3 linked regions of the Homo sapiens genome follow. The protein of the gene in region 1 interacts with the protein of each later gene in a pairwise test. Each region holds a gene or a part of one and is shown on either strand. Other genes may lie near its edges.

Region 1 (3,654 bases):
TCCTCCATCTTATGTTAATAGAGACCATAACTATGAAGTTTTTGTAAAAATGCCACCAACAAATAGCACTCCATGATGTCAGGTACTTGAAGTGCAAAAAAAAAAAAAAAAAAAATCTAACTTGGTTTTCGCCCTCAAAGAGCCTAGAATTGAATTGGGGCGGGGGAGAGGGGGTGGGCGGGAAGCTATGCTTATCAAAAAGTAATTAAGAATCAAGATAGTAAAATGCAAGATATGTGGAATACACAATGAGCTGTAGGATTTTTGAAGAGAGAGAAATCATTCCAAGTGAGGTAGGATTGTTGGAAGGAGGTATAGGATTTAGATAAGAGGGAGGAGAAAGACAGACTTGTCAAATAATGGCAGCCTGAGAGTCAAGGGTTGGAGTTAGGGATGTGTGCATCATCTCTGAGGGACAAAGAGCTCAGTTTGGCTGGAACAAAAGGAAGAATAGGAACATAGTGAGAGAAAAGATAGGGGCCAGATTGTGTAAACTTCTGATACTAGAAGACACAATTTGGCCTTTATTTATTATATAATAATTCATTTTTAATTGCATAGTTTAAAACTCAGGATTTTTCAGACATCCCTTCTAAGCCTTACCTCTTCCTTGACTTGATGGAACTGGACCACCTTGTACAGGATATCCTCGTAATCCTGGATTCTCTCTTTCTGTTTTTGATGGAAGTGAATAAGGTCCTTCAGTTGTTGAGACTTTTCTTTTACAGGGGCTCCTCTGCCAGTTAACTCCTCTGATTCTTTCATAATGTACTGAACCTCATCATTCAATTGCTAAAACATTGAAAGCAATAAAAAAATCTTGCTATTAAAGAACTTTTTTACTTTACAACTGACAATATAAAGGTCTAAACAATGAATCACTCTTTCATTTGTTAACAAATACTTATTATGAATGCCCCCACCCTCCAAAATATTTGGGCATTGTGCTGGATGATAGAGATATGTTTTTCTATACTCACCTGAGAAATTTACAAAAAAAAATAGCATGAGCAATGCAACAAAGGTTTCAAAGCTAGGTGGAAAAACAAAGTCATACATTTCTATGGCATACCAAATATTCTATTCATCTGTTAAGTAAATGTATTTTAGATATTTTATGCAGCCCCATGATTATCTCTGATATTTAATACAGACTAGAATCAGGTGGTATGGTAAAAACACCATGAGAAGATGGGTGTAAAAATATATCAGGGGAATAACTTGTGCTCTGTGATAAAAGAATGATCAGAATGAACCACCAGCTGAACAGCATAGTAGATAGACTGCTTCAAAAGCGGTCATCCCATGATCCACAAATAGCCATCACATGTAGGGAGGGATAAACTGCCTTGCCTTTCACCCAGCATTGCTCAGATAATCCAGATTCTGGAATAGAATTTGCAAAAGGGGCATACTTTAAAGAGAATGCTACTATAGGCTGGGCATGGTGGCTCACGCCTGTAATCCCAGCACTTTGGGAGGCCAAGGAGGGTGGACCACCTGAAGGCAGGAGTTCAAGACCAGCCTGGCCAACATGGCAGAACCCTGTCTCTACCAAAAATACAAAAATTAGCTGGGCGTGGTGGCACACACCTGTAATCCCAGCTACCCCAGAGGCTGAGACACGAGAATCACTTGAACCTGGGAGGCGGAGGCTGCAGCAAGATAAAATTGTGCTACTGCACTCCAGCCTGGGCAACAGAGTAAGACTCTGTCTCAAAAAAAAAAAAAAAAAAAAAAAGACAGTGAGAGAAAGATAGAGAATGCTACTATAATTTCAAGTGTAGATCTTTTGTATGAAAGGTAAAAGTAATGGAAATGATTTAGACTAAGGAGATAATTTTCAGAAGAGTGACCTAAAAAGGGTCTTCAAGTTCAAGCATTTGGGCATTAAATATATGTGCATCACAGTGACAGGGCTAAAGAGGTGTGACAATGGTCCTGATTTAGAGGAACTTACACGTACATGCAAACGTGCACACAAACAAAATGCATATAAGCAGATAACGCAGGGTGTATTAAAGAGCCTAATATAGGCCAGTCACATTTGCTGAGAGTTTTATAAGAGTTTGCTGTGGATTACAATGGTGGGTGTGTTTCTGTGTAGCAGGTGCGGTGGTTATACTTACATCGGTTTTTGTCTTAAAGGAACCTACAATTAGATATTCCCTAAAGGAATCTTCAATATTCTGATTCTGGGATTCTTTGAAGCCCACATTTATGAAGCAGTGACAGCTAGAAACACAGGTATCTAAATTTTGCAGCAAAGCATAAGAATCCAGGCAGAAGTATAATGTGACTAGCAGGTGGCAATTTTTGGCGGTTGTGTCACATTTTGGAGAGGCAGGAGGTGGGGAAATAGGGACTGTGTTAAGCAGTCAGGGTCAGGAACATGACTCATGGTTTTATTGCTCATATCCTGAAAGGTGGAGTGGAGGGCACAGCAAAATTCCTGGGGTGATGGTACGTGCCTGGGGTGCTGGTGGGTGAGGACAGTGACATAACAGTGGTCACCTCAGGGACCCAGGGCAGCAGAGCCTCTGGGTCCGAGGTTGCCCATCCTTGTTCTGAGATGTCTCAATTTAAAACACCTCTGCACTCCCAAGGAAAAGAATTAGAGTGAAAATATAGGATAAATATATTACTAGTTTAATTAGCCATGTGAATTTTAAAAATCTAATATAAAAATCTATTTAGGACATTGTATAGCCCTAATGCTGGTATATCATCAAATTCAAAAGAATGCAGGAAAAAAGTAAGAAAAATGTCTCTACAGTGGATTTTTAGACAAGCAATACTTTTGTTTAAAAAAATAGAAATTCACCAGCCTGTTACAATTAATCAGGTAAACTGCAACCAAACAGTTTTAAGTATTTTTTCCATTCACCCAAATCCAGCAATATATTTCTTCACCTGGAACTGAGGCTTCATGTCATTCCATTTTTGTCGTAGATCTAAAATGAACTGGAGGCTCCCTCCGAGGTCAAGTGCAGACACAGGCATAAGTGCTTCCTGAAGAAGTTTTAAGTTGTGAGAAGTCTGAAATAAATATTGGACAGTTACACATGCATTTTCTTTGACATCTCCAGCAAATTTGATCATTCTAGGTATGACGCAGAGTGTGATCAAATTTTTCAAACCCCATGAAAACACTCAGGATGTGGCATGAGCTCAGGGTTCTAAACCACCAAGAAGTAAGGCCCTTGGTTTCTGCTGCCTTTTTTGGTTTTATTGTGGTAAAATACACATAACAAAAGTTACCATGTTTACCATTTTGGGGTGTACAGTTCAGAGGCATGATATTTAATACATTCACATCAATGTGCAATCAACATCACCACCAACCACCTCCAGAACTTGTTTATCATCCCAAACAGAAACTCTGTACCCATTTAACAGCTCCCCATTCCCTCCCTCTCTCTCCCAGTCCCTGGTAACCTACATTCTGCTTTCTGCCTCCATGAGTTTGACTACAGGGACCTCATTTATAAGTGGAATCACACGATATTTATCCTTTTGTGTTTGGCTTATTTCACTTAGCTAGTGTTTTCAAGGTTCGCTCATGTTAGCCTGTGTCGGAATTTCATTCCTTTTCACATCCCATTGTTCCTTGCCTCACCTTTTTAAGTTGCTCTTTGAATGCCGCCCACTGCT
Region 2 (3,654 bases), on another chromosome or scaffold:
GGGAGCTTAAGTTTGGAAACTGGTTAAACCATCAAAATATAATGTGCTGAATATAATAATTAAAAAGAAAACAAGGTATATAGTATTATAACATTAGGTGAAGGAAGGAAATTATTGATTCTGCTTCAGTTGATCTTTCTCATTTTAAAAGAGTCAAATCTCACTATGATAACTTTGAACATAATAGAAAACATCTTGATACCCTCATTGAAACAGTATTTTTAAACCATATTCTGGGATCTTGAAATAAAATAGTCTCTTATTTGCTTAAGACTACCATATTGGTATCTCCATCGTAAATATGGCTAAAGCAGTGGTTCTCATACTTTAGTTTCTATCTGAATCGCCTAGAGAGTTTGTTAAAATAGATTACGGGGCCCCGCCCCAAGAGTAAATCTGGGGTGGGTCCAAATATTTACATTTCTAACAAGGTCTTGGTGGGTCCAAATATTTACATTTCTGACAAGTTTCCAGGTGATGCTGATGATTCTGGTTCAGGGACTACACTTTGAGAACTGATTTATCTGAACTCAAAAAATTTTAATGCCTTCCTCATATGAACCATTAATTGTTTCAAATCTATCATATCTAATTACTATCAGTATGCATTGAGTTACTATGTGCTAAGCACTGAATTCACTTATTCACAAAGATGAAGAAGTTATGGAACCTTTCTCAAAGAGCTCAATCTAATAGGATCAACAGTGGTAGTATTACAATACTCAAAGTAATCACTGTCTGTATTGAGTGCTCAGTGTGCCAAGTACTATGCATTATGTAAACTCATTTAATCCTCACAATTGGCATATAATCCTTATTTTAAATGAAAAAACTGAGGTCTAGAAAGGTTAAATAATTTCCCAGAATTCATATAGTGAGTATATGGAGGAGCCAGAATTTGCTATTCTGCCTTTTTGCACTATAAAAAGTTTGCGAAGATTGGTAGACCCCAGAAAGGATGGAGTAATTGGCTCTACCTTAGAAAATCAAACAGCATCACAGAAGAGATGGCACTGGAGCATCTTAAGGGACAGGTCTAAGATAGCCAGATGAATTGGAACTGTGAGCATTTCCAGCTGAGGGAGCAGTTTCTGCAAAGCCAAGGAAACCCGAGAGAACATATGTTCCACAGACTACAAATAGTTGTATAAGACCATAACACAATAGGCAGATGGAGTATAAGAGGAAAACAGACTGTATAAGGCAGAGGTCAAAGTCATAAAGAATTTTATATGCCAGGCTAAAAAGTTTTAAAAATAGAATTAGGCTTCTTAATTTTTCCTCCTATAACTTTCATTTGTAAGCCAGCAGTTCTCAAAGCATAGTCAGACAGTAGATTCCACATCATCTGGGAACTTGTTAGAAATGCAGATTCCTGGTTCCATGCCTACTGAATCAGAAACTCTGAGTGGGGGAGCCCAGCAACCTGAGTTTTAACAAGACCTCCAGATGATTCTGGTGCATGCTAAAGTTTGAGACCCCTGCAGTAGGTTATAGAATTCTTGAATAATAGCCTTCAAGATAGTTAAAGGTCACTATAGTGGTAGTAATTATATTTGACACTGATTTATTCTATTAGAGTACAACACCTAACAGTTGAAATATTAACACCATTTAAGGGATACATCTTCATCATGATCTATTTATACCTTGCAAACCTGTTTCTTCTGTTGTCATAAAAGAGATCTTAGGACAAGAGTTTGTTAGGTCAGCATTCAAAGAATAGCATGCTAACTATTCTTCCTTAGCTATGGGAATCATTCTAAAACTCGCTGACTGATTTTAATTATCAAAAAAAAACCCCAGTAATTTTTGTTTTTTTTACTGCTTGTTAATACATAAAACTGATGTTGTAGTTAGTATTTAAGGTGTGCTATTTAAACCAAATGTGTTGAAGGAATCAAATGATTTAAGTCATGACATGACTTAAAAGTAATTCAATCTTTCCTTGTCATGTCAATAAAAATATAGAAAGTATAATCTGGGATTCCCAAGCAAACTAATTTAAATGCCTGTCACCGTCTTTTTTGCCAAAATGTGTTCAGTATTTGTGGTGAATATGTCTGCATGGTATCTGGCACTGAAGTATATACTAAAGCGTTATGGTTGACTTAGTGGTTCTGTAGTTTATAGTTACATATAGTCATACTTTGCACAGCTCACTAAAAGCATTTAAAGCCCAGCACATATAAAGTATTTGTTAATGATCCATAAATCCTTTCTAGATATTAGATATACAAAACCTCTTTTCATCTTAGAAATAGTAGCAGCAAGAAGTGAAGGTAGTATGCTGTAATTAATGTGGTTAATGCTCAAATAAACAAACGTAGTTTCCCATGTAATGATTCAAGATTTCAAGGATTTAGAAGTGGAAAGTCCATTGAGGCATTGACATCAACCCCTTGTTTTACAGATGGGGAAACTCAGATCCAGGGAAGTTAAATAGGTGATTTGCTGATGTCCCATAGGAAGTGAATAGCAGGATATCACAGGACAGGATATTTCTGAGCCTCAATCTGATACAACATTATGGGTCCACACCATCTAAAGTAAAGTAGTTTCCAGGTATTTTAGCACTAAAATCTTAGGTGGAGTATACTTTATGAAGAATATTTAGTAACATATAAAAAATTATCTTTTCGTATTGATACAATAAGCTACAGTATCAGATTTTTCTTTACAAGAGTAATTTTTAAAAACCTAATAACTGTTTTTAGAAATAAAATTCATTAAAAAACAATAAAAGGGTATAAATTCCAGCTATTCTTACTACTTAATACATGGTAGAATATAAACCACCAAAGAGGACAATTAGCCTTCTGTGTTATTATCATACAATTGCTAAGGTGATATTTGAACTTGGAATGTGCTTACAGGCTGGATAACTTTTCAGTTATTCCCAAGAAGAACTGATCTAAACCACACATACCTTATAGGTGATTTTTGCCAGCAAGTAACCTACAGTCAAATACATGTAGGTCTGCCAGAATGTTGTTTCTTTTTGTTTTTTTTTTTTTTGTTTTTTTTTGAGATGGAGTTTTGCTCTTGTTGCCCAGGCTGGATTGCAATGGCGTGATCTCGGCTCACTGCAGCCTCTGCCTCCTGGGTTCAAGTGATTCTCTTGCCTCAGCCTCCTGAGTAGCTGATTACAGGCACCCGCCCCAAGCCTGGCTAATTTTTTTTGTATTTTTAGTAGAGATGGGTTTTCACCACGTTGGCCAGGCTGATCTGGAACTCCTGACCTCAAGTGATCCACCTTCCTTGGCCTCCCAAAGTGCTGGGATTACAAGCGTGAGCCACCACGCCCGGCTGAATGTTGAGTTTCTTGTTAACCAATCCTACCCAAAGACTTTCTGAACCATTTTTAGAAGCCATTAAGTTTTTTTTAAAAAACTAGATGTTAAAGTATAAAACTTATACCAGAAAAGTCTTACTAAGAGGAGGGACTAGAAAAAAAAAAGTCAAGCCATCATCTGAATTTTACTACAATAAGTAATTATTGGAATTTCTACATGAAAGGCAATTAGAATGTATAGTTGGTTAATGTAGAAATTTAAGAGATACGGAGAAGACACTGCCCATTTAAAATGTATCCTTTTAAAACCACTGAACAGAGAAATTCTTAATACAATTGAGAGTTAGTTTTAAAGTAGC
Region 3 (3,654 bases), on another chromosome or scaffold:
CCGGGTGTGGCCTGAGTGGGGGTCGGATGGTGATGTATCCCCAGACAGGGATAGACAGCAGGTGAGGAGAGCTGGGCTCTGCTGTTAGCAGGGGAGACTGAGAAGGGCCTGGGCCAGGACTGGGGGGCGGGGAGGGGCGGGTGGCTGGGGGTCCAGCCCTGGGGTCGCGGGCACACCTGGGCATACCTCAGGACGACCTGCACGGCTTTAACTCCGGGCTGCAGTTCCCTGTGGGTGTGGAGCAAACCAGAGGAAAGGAAAGGAGAGCTGAGTGAGGAGGGCGTGACCCCAGCCCACCCGACAAGGTGGAGACCGCCACACCACAAGGCTCCCTCCCCCAGAGCTGGGAAACTGAGGCCCAGGACTCTTTTGTACGGGCTGGGTGAGAGGAGTGGCTGTGAGGTCAGGAGAGGGGCTGGCCTCCCTGGAAAATGCAACAGAATCCACAGCAAAACCCTGAACCAGAGAGGGCAGCCAGGTGCCTCTCCCTGCGAAGAAACATAGCTAAAACGTGCATGCGGGAATCTAGCAGCTGGCTCACAATGGCAAGAAAACACCCAGTTTGGGAGGTCAAGGCTGGCGGAGCTCTTGAGCCCAGGAATTTGAGACGAGCCTGCGCAACATGGTGAAACTGTCTCCACAAAAAATTACCCAGGCGTGGTGGTGCACACCTGTGGTCCCAGCTGCTTGGAGGCTGAGGCAGGGGGATCGTCTGAACCCATGGAGGCACAGGCTGCAAGCTATGATTGCACCACTGCACTCCAGCCTGGGTAACAAAGAGAAACACTCTCCAAAAAAAAAAAAACAAAAACCAGTAACACCTGAGGATAAACTTTAACAAGAAACGCCCCCAGAAGAAGAGGAAAAAGTCTATCTACCCAAAGACGCATCCGTGGATGTTCACAGCAGAACTGACCACAACAGCCACAAACTAGCAGCATCCTGAGTGTCCTTCCGTAGACCGAAGGACCAACACGCACGGGACGCGACCCAGCCATGGAAAGGAGCCAGGCTCAGACCCAGGCCTCAGCACAGGTGCACCGTGAGGATGTCCCACCCAGTGAGAGACGCCAGACACGAAAGGACACACAAGGCAGGTGGCTCACGCCAGTAACCCTGGCACTTTGGGAGGCGGAGGTGGGTGGGTCACTTGAGGTCAGGAGTTCGAGACAAGCCTGGGCAATATGGTGAAACCTCGTCTCTACTAAAAATACAAAAATTAGGCCAGGTGCAGTGGCTCACGCCTGTAATCCCAGCACTTTGGGAGGCCGAGGCGGGCGGATAACAAGGTCAGGAGATCGAGACCCTCCTGGCTATCATGGTGAAACCCCGTCTCTACTAAAAATACAAAAAAAAAAATCAGCCAGGCGTGGTGGCGGGTGCCTGTAGTCCCAGCTACTTGGGAGGCTGAGGCAGGAGAATGGCGTGAACCCAGGAGGCAGAGCTTGCAGTGAGCCAAGATCGTGCCACTGCACTCCAGCCTGGGCCTCGGAGTGTGACTCTGTCTCAAAAAAAATACAAATATTAGCTGAGTGTGGTGGTGCACGCCTGTAATCCTAGCTAGTCAGAAGTCTGGGGCAAGAGAATCACTTGAACCTGGGAGGCGGAGATTGCAGTGAACTGAGATCGCGACACTGCACTCCAGCCTGGGCGACAGAGTGAGATTCTGTCTTAAATAATAATAATAAACGAAAGCCACATAGTATGTGATTCCACTTCTATGAAATGTCCAGGACAGACCCATTTACAGACAGGAGGGGATGCGTGGGGGCCAGTGGATGAAGGGTGGCAGCTGCTGGGGATGGACATGACTGCCCTGAGACTAGGCAGTGGTGGGAGCTGCGATACCTACTGATCCACGAGAACCCACTCGATGACACCCTTAAAAACTGTATATTCTATGGTATGCAAATCATATCTCGACATAAGAAAAAGAAATGTGGGATGGGCAGGGTGGCTCACGCCTGTAATCCCAGCACTTTGGGAGGCAGATGTGGGGTGGATCACGAGGTCAAGAGATTGAGATCATCTTGGCCAACATGGTGAAACCCTGTCTCTACTAAAAATACAAAAATTAGCCAGGCGTGGTGGTGCGCACCTGTAGTCCCAGCTACTCGGGAGGCTGAGTCAGGAGAATCGCTTGAACCTGGGAGGCAGAAGTTGCAGTGAGCCGACATCACGCCACTGCACTCCAGCCTGGCGACAGAGCGACTTCATTTCAAAAAAAAAAAAGAAAAAGAAAAAGAAATGTCCAGAAGCTTTCTGAGGAGAAAACCAAACTTTTTTTTTTTTTTTTTTTTGAGACGGAGTCTCCCTTTGTTGCCCAGGCTGGAGTGCAGTGGCAGGATCTCGGCTCACTGCAAGCTCCGCCTCCCGGGTTCACGCCATTCTCCTGCCTCAGCCTCCCGAGTAGCTGGGACTACAGGCGCCCGTCACCACACCCGGCTAATTTTTTTGTATGTTTGGTAGAGACGGGGTTTCACTGTGTTAGCCAAGATGGTCTCGATCTTCTGACCTCGTGATCCACCTGCCTTGGCCTCCCAAAGGGCTGCGATTACAGTTGTGAGCCACCGTGCCCAGCCCAAACTGATTTTTTTATACTGTGTGGCTGGCTCTGAGCACTCTGCAGCAGGGACCCAGTGCAGGTGGAGGCTGTGCTGACCCAGGTACATAGACAAGGAAGACGAGGCTGAGAAAGACGAGGTCGCCACCTTGGGTCACCCAGGCAGAGAGGCCTCCATGGCCAAGCCTGGCTCGGCTGGATCTGAACCCTTACTAGGTGTGAGGGCCAGGCTGGGAGGCCCCAGGAACCTGGCCCCACAGCAGGTGGGGGCGGTGGGTCTGAAGCGGCTGGGCACGAGAAGCTAGGCATTAAATGGGGGCGCCCGGCCCAGCCCTGCCATGGACTCAGGGGTGACCTGGGCAAATGGCCTCCCCTGTCCTAAGGGCCCAGCACCTACCATTAGCCTGCCCAGCAGGAATCTGTCTCAGCTGGAGGCAGTACAGCCTCGGAGAGACTGAGGGAGGAGCAGAGCGCAGGGCAGCCACACTGGCCCCTCACCTGCCACAGTTCAACCGTCCTCATCTGAGGACGACCCTGCCCCAGGCGACACCGAGCTGTGTCTGGGGACATCTGTGGTTGTCAGAGTTAGGGGTGTTCCTGGCACAGAGCAGGTGGAGGCCAGGGATGCTGCTCAGCAGCCTGCAGTGCCCAGGACGGCCCCACCGAGGGAACCATCCCACCTCACTATCCACGGTATGGAGGGGGAAACCCCGTATTCATTATATAACTGGGAAAAAACCTGACTTCCGCCAGGCGCAGTGGCTCACGCCTGTAATCCCAGCATTCTGGGAGGCTGAGGTGGGTGAATCACCTGAGTCAGGAATTCGAGACCAGCCTGATCAACATGGCAAAACCCTATCTCTACTAAAAATACAAGATTAGCCGGGCGTGGTAGTGAGCGCCTGTAATCCCAGCTACTTGGGAGGCTGAGGCAGGAGAATTGCTTGAATCCAGCAGGTGGAGGTTGCAGGAAGCCAAAATCGCGCCACTGCACTCCAGCCTGGAAGCCTGGATAACAAGAGCTACACTCAGTCTCAAAAAAAAAAAACAAAAAAACACCTGACTTAACTTCCTGCTCATGCTGGACACCA

What was found.
Region 2: the proteins of CCDC141 (region 1) and TSC22D2 interact in a two-hybrid assay, tested with the Homo sapiens proteins (one study listed by BioGRID).
Region 3: the proteins of CCDC141 (region 1) and PIAS4 interact in binary tests that used the Homo sapiens proteins (3 or more experiments, as listed by UniProt).

What each region holds. Positions count from the first base shown.
Region 1 is NC_000002.12:178,868,514-178,872,167, forward strand, and holds part of CCDC141 (coiled-coil domain-containing protein 141), read right to left. Parts: coding exon 3,620-3,654; intron 3,040-3,619; coding exon 2,914-3,039; intron 793-2,913; coding exon 604-792; intron 1-603. UniProt on the Homo sapiens protein: Plays a critical role in cortical radial and GnRH neurons migration during brain development. Regulates cortical radial migration by negatively controlling the activity of histone deacetylase 6 (HDAC6) and promotes centrosome maturation.
Region 2 is NC_000003.12:150,453,177-150,456,830, forward strand, and holds part of TSC22D2 (TSC22 domain family protein 2), read left to right. Parts: intron 1-3,654. UniProt on the Homo sapiens protein: Reduces the level of nuclear PKM isoform M2 which results in repression of cyclin CCND1 transcription and reduced cell growth.
Region 3 is NC_000019.10:4,024,720-4,028,373, reverse strand, and holds part of PIAS4 (E3 SUMO-protein ligase PIAS4), read right to left. Parts: intron 229-3,654; coding exon 187-228; exon of another isoform or gene 185-186; coding exon of another isoform or gene 177-184; intron 1-176.